2 separate regions of the Homo sapiens genome follow, and region 1 is linked to region 2. Evidence: fine-mapped expression QTL. A gene starts in region 2. The other region holds a variant in brackets. All regions are shown on one strand. Distances are between the middles of the regions.

Region 1 (2,911 bases), 50 kb before region 2:
CTTCTAGCCATGTGTAGAATGATTCTCCTGAGAGAGAGAGAAAAGTGGATTAAAACATTATATGGTCATTTATAAAGTAGAATAAATTAGGTTTATAAAATCTTTCTGCAGGGCATGGTGGCTCATGCCTATAATCCTAGCACTTTGGGAGGCCGAGGTGGGCTGATCACTTGAGGCCAGGAGTTTAAGACCAGCCTGGCCAACATGGCGAAACCCCATCTCTACTAAAAATACAAAAAATTAGCCGGGTATGGAGGTGCAGGCCTGTAATCCAGCTACTCGGGAGGATGAGGCAGGAGAATTGCTTGGACCCAGGAGGCTAAGGTTGCTGTGAGCCGAGATCATACCACTGCCCTCCAGCCTGGGTGACAGAGTGAGACCCTGTCTCAAAAAAAAAAAAAAAAAAAAAAAAAATTATGACAGATTAAGTAATCTCTCTAAAATGTCTACTGCTTCAGGTAAAATAGAAAAATAACCATATGGTTCTAGGAAATAAAACCTACAAATAATTTAAGTAACTTTAAGAGAGTGTTTTTACAAATATTTTGACTATTAAATTTTTTAAGAAAACATTTCAGTCAAAATATGAGCTGGCCACAGTGGCTTGGACCTGTAGCCCCAGTTAACTCAGAAGGTTGAGGGGGAAGGATTGCTTGAGCCCAGGAGATCGGATCCAACCTGGGCAACATAGCAAGATCCTGCCTCTTTTAAAAAAAAAAAGTATATAAATCTTATTCATTGAAGGTGTAAATATCTGAAAACATAGGGCAAACATTTTAACGATCTCAAATTTGCTTTTCATAACAACCATAGTGCTTTTTAAATATTCCAAGAAAATAAGGAATTATAATTAACACAAACGTCCAACTATTGATTATTCCATTTTTCCTAATCCAATAAAACTAAAAATATTTCCTCAATTTTCTAAGACTAATAAGTTTTAAGGGACAGCTAAAAAATCTCTTAATTTTCAATATAATTCTTCAGGAAAGTTAATAGAATACAGAAGGGCTTGACTAATCTGTGTACTAATGCTGAAGAACATTCCTGGGGTCAGGGAGATGCTGGTCAAGGGATACAAAATTTCAGTTAAAGAAATGCAGTAAGTTCAAGAGATTTATTGTAGAACATGCTGACTACAGTTAATTACAACGTATTGTATTCTTGAAAATTGCTGCGATTTTAAGTGTTTTCGCCAAAAAAATGGTATGTGAGCTAATTAGCTCAATATACCCATTCCACAATGTATACATATTTCAAAACATGTTAAACACTTGAAAAAAAAAAAAAAAAAGAACCATTCCTGGCCCTGTAACCTTCTTCTGAGTTGGGGAAAGAGAAAGAAAAGAGAGCAGTCAATAAGAATCAAAATTGTTAATGCACTTCCTGCGTTACCTATCCT[T/C]GATGTTGTTTTTTTTTAAATTGAGAATGATAGAAATTATAGAAAAACCGAACACTCAGATGAGCTGAGTAAGGAGTCTAGGGATAAACTAGACGGTGGGGAATTACTTTGCCTCCTGAGAGTCTTCATACTTTGTACAAAAATGAAAACGTCTAACAAATTAATTCATTCAACATATAGTAAGGATCATTTATCATTATATCACTTGTGATTCAAAACACCTCAAGTGCCAACAGGAAAAGTCTAGTACCCAACGTACTAAAAAATATGGCCTCTATCAATCTAATTTAAACTACCACTATATAGTCTTACCTACCACTAAAAGGGTCTCTTTACTGTCTCCCCAAACATGCCTGACTTGTCTCAACTCCCAGCTGCATGCTGTTTCCTCCAACATGCACTATCCAATTGTACGGATCTAAATCTGTCCCATTATTCAAAATTCACCTCAAATGCTACCCCTCCTCCAGTAAGCTTTCCCACATCGCTCCTGTGAGATACGATCTGTTTCTCCTCTAAGGAGCTATATATATCACCTACTGTTTGTACCATCTATGGAGTATTTCTTTACCTCATTACCATTGTTTATGTACAGTGCTTATCTTTCCTACTATCCTATATATCCTCAGCTCCTAGAGGGAAAGCACCATGTTTTAAACATCTTCCTACCCTGGACAATGCCCATCAGTGCCCCTGAACACAGAGAGGTAAACATTCAGTTGAAATAATTATTTTGGCTATTTTGGGGGTATCTTTTAACCAACATTCATTCAATAATCAATTGTTAATAAATTGCTCGTCATCAAATTAAGTATTATATTGATACCTGAGGTTAGAAATTTCAGTCAATAAGAAAATAAAGAGGTCACAAGACAAATTATCTGGTAAAACTACCTTAACTCCTTCTCCCCACTTCCTCAGGACATATTCAAGTAAATTATATAATAACCAGAAAATGGGGAACTTGTAATGTGAATTGATTTACAAACTAAGCATTTAGGAAAAATGGTCTTTTTTTTTTAACATAGGATAACTTGATATATATAAAATAATCTTTTTTTTTTTGGTCACCATTCATTAGTAGCTATTTTCTTAGAAAACAGGAATACTTTCTTTTGAATTCCATAAAGGAAAAATCAAATTCTGATTGTTACAAAAAATTTCCTCCACACTTGAAACAAACAAACATGAGTTTTGCTCACCATCATCTTCGCCTAAAAGAGAAAATAATAGAAAAGATTTTAGAAAATGTCTTACATAGCTCAGATCCCAATACTATTTTTTGAGATTAAAACTGTTAAACTATTAATTATATCACAAACCTTGGTCACTGAGTAGACGCCCTGCAAATGAGTCCTCTTAATCAGAATACAGGTCAAAGAGTATAAGATTTGCACATTTTGGCCAGGCGTGGTGGCTCACGGCGGTAATCCCAGGACTTTGGGAGGCCAAGGTGGGTGGATCACCTGAGGTCAGGAGTTTGAGACCAGCCTGGCCAACATGTGAAAC
Region 2 (2,911 bases):
AAAGAGAAAATGGGAACTCTCATTTCAGAAAAATATCGAATTGTAAATTTCACTCAGAAACACTCAACTAGTGACTAGAAAATAATTTTGCCAAAGACAATTTGGAAAATTTACTTTAGTAAGTCTGCCCAGATTACCACTATCTATTCCATCTCAGTGTTTTCCAAGTGAGGTCCAAGAGGTAGTCAAAAGATAACTTTGCTACAGTTATACTGTACTTGCAATGTTTGTTTAAAATGCTGATATCTGGGCCATATTCCAGATCCAATCAATACATGTGGAGGTAGGGCCAGAGAATCTGCATTTTAACATGTTCCCCAATACCAAAAATTTGCCCCTTTTATTTTTATGGTTCAAACACAGACACAAACGGACTATTCAGGCACTCTGGGATTTAGTGCAGGGCACCATAAAACCATGAAATAAAGTGACTCAATTCAGAAAAACATGTTTTCACGGTTACACTCAGAGTCACCTTCAATTTTTCTTGGATGAGCACTAATTGCTTCAAATGACATCTCCCCTCATCATCAGGCCACCTGAGACCTTCGTTTTATTTTTTTGGCCCTCAGCAGTGCTGCCTCCTTGCAGCAGGTGCAGACAACAAGCAGCAGCACCTGGCAATCAATTCAAATTCTACTGAATAGAAGCAAACACCTCTCTGAAGGCGAAAGGATCTGGTCAGCTAAGCCTCAGATTTCTAGCACACTGAGAACACTTGTAATCATCGCTTCACATCAACAACCAGCCAGCACCTCACGACTGCCAGAGCCAGAGCCTCCATCCACGAGCCACAACGCCCCACTCAGACCCCCCCAGTCTCGTATTGGGACTTACCTGGCGATGCCACTTGGCAGACACAGCTCAGCTGGGTAAAAATAAAGCAATCTTGAGCAAGGGAAGGTGCTCGAGGAAGAGTAAAAGCCCAGAAAGCTCTAGTCCGACAGTTCGAGTGAAGTCTTGCCCCCTCCCAATCCCCTGCGCCTGGCGGGGCCTCGGGGGTCTGCGGAGTGCCCCCAACTCTCAGTCTCCCTCCCTCACTAACTCCTGAAGGGAAGGACGTCACCGTTTCTCTGGGCGCTCGCTCCCTTCGCAAGACAGCCGAGGTGGTTCATGCCCGTCCCATCTCCCGCCACACTCCCAGCCGCTTAACACATCCGAGAGGAAAAAACGAAAACAGCTCAGGGGGACCGTCACCATCTTCCTCTTTTGACTGCCATTACCCGGAGTGTCGCCGTCCCCCCACCCTGCGGGCGGTTCGCAGATGTTTCCCGCACTGGACGGTCAGGTCTCTGCTCCCCGGGTTTTCTGCTCGCCAGAAATCACCTCTTTTCTGGCCCGGCCCTGCCCGGCCCTCCCCGCGTCACAGCCGCGGCCCGTGTGTAGCGGCCGCGGGTGTTCGGCCGGGGGTTCCCGGCCCGCTATCACTCGGGCTTACCTGCGCCTCGACGACGCTCCGCAGGAAGCTCAGGGTGACCAGCAGCTGCACCGCGGCCGCTACCCCCTGCCCAGCGCCTGCCCGGCGGACCCCTTGGCTCATGCTGACCTCTACCCACACCGCGGCCAGCCGGACCCCTCGGGGCCGGGGAACGACGGGCGGCCCAGGCGACGACCCAAGGGGACGGTTCCCAGCGGCCGAGCGACTCCAGGGTCAGAGGTCTGCACTCCAGTCCGGAGGCAGGCGACTCTTTCCCCAACACCCGGCAGCTGCGAGTGAGGCAGGAAAGGCGAGCGCCCCCACTTCATCCCCCAGGCGGCCCCGCCCCCGGCTCGCTTGGCTCCTCGGCCACGCCCCCAAGCGCGGGGCCTTGTGGGAGTTGTGGTCCTGGGCGGTCGCCTAGGCGCCGCGGCAGGAAGGCGGAGCCGCTGAACGAGAGGACTCGGGAACTACAACTGCGAAGGCCGCCCCGCCTCCCCGAGGCCTCGGGCTCCGCGGCGGCCAATGAGGCGGGACCACGCGGGCCTCCAAAACACCGGGGGGTGCGGGCGGGGGAAGCGGGGCGACCTCTTCTCCGGGAAACCAGGCTGAGGACCTCTCTGCGTCGGTCCCTGCTGTCGCTCCTGGAGTCCTCGCAGACGCCAGGCTCTAGGATTCACCCAGTACGCGGGCGAGTTAGGAACGGACGGTGCGGGATCTTTGACTTTCGGTCTGAAGCGTATTCTTTGTCTCATTCATTTTTCTGTAGCCTCACATCTGCTGTGGGTGCCTATGTAAGCTACCTGTGACTTGTAGAGATGGCTTCGGCTCTTTTTTAATTTCATGCACCCTAGATGTGGATGTCATCTCCTGCCCCGCCCCAGCCCGACTCCTAGGTTGACACGTGCGAGTATAACGCATGCTAAAGAATGAAGACAAACCCAAAGGCTTATGATGAAATATGGGGATGGGGTAAAACAAAAAAAAACTTAGAGTGACATAGATTGGGCGCAGATCCCAACTCTAAAACATTCTAGCTAGTTATTGGGCCTTAATTCCCACCTCATATCTTGTTCTAGGGCTACATAAGATTAGATACAGAAAGAGCTGAGTATAGTGCCTAGCACCTAGGAAGCACTCAATAAATGGTAACTGCTATTAGTTTTATTAATGCCTTTGATTTCTACAAAACGAGTAATACATCTCCCTTGTGTTTATGTAGCGTGTATTAGTTTCTCATTGATGCTGTAAGAAACTATCACACATTTAGTTGCATACAACAAAAGAAATTCATTACCTTATAGTACTGGAGATCAGGTGTCCAAAATGGACCTGTAGGGCTGTGTTCCTTTTGGAGGCTCTCAGGGACAATGTGTTTCCTTACCTTTTCCAGCTTCCAGAGGCCACCTGCATTCCTTACCTCATGACTTCACATCTCCTTCACTCTCTCTGCTTCCCTCGTCACATGCCTTCTCTTGTGACCCTAACTCTTCT

What was found.
Region 1: its variant is fine-mapped to the expression of ERO1B in monocytes (TOPMed, PIP above 0.99).

Annotation. Positions count from the first base shown.
Region 1 is chr1:236,230,224-236,233,134 of GRCh38, forward strand. It overlaps ERO1B (endoplasmic reticulum oxidoreductase 1 beta), which reads right to left. Exons shown (of 16, transcript NM_019891.4): 9 at 2,605-2,616; 10 at 1-27. All of the region lies in intron 1 of LOC124904561 (a long non-coding RNA gene), which reads left to right. Among named protein-coding and RNA genes, the nearest start is that of ERO1B, 50 kb to the right of the region's middle. The variant T/C (reference allele first, on the strand shown) is at 1,403.
Region 2 is chr1:236,280,244-236,283,154 of GRCh38, forward strand. ERO1B (endoplasmic reticulum oxidoreductase 1 beta) reads right to left here and starts at 1,715. Exons shown (of 16, transcript NM_019891.4): 1 at 1,439-1,715. The coding sequence starts at 1,540. RefSeq lists an enhancer at 1,110-1,309 and silencers at 1,380-1,429, 1,470-2,059.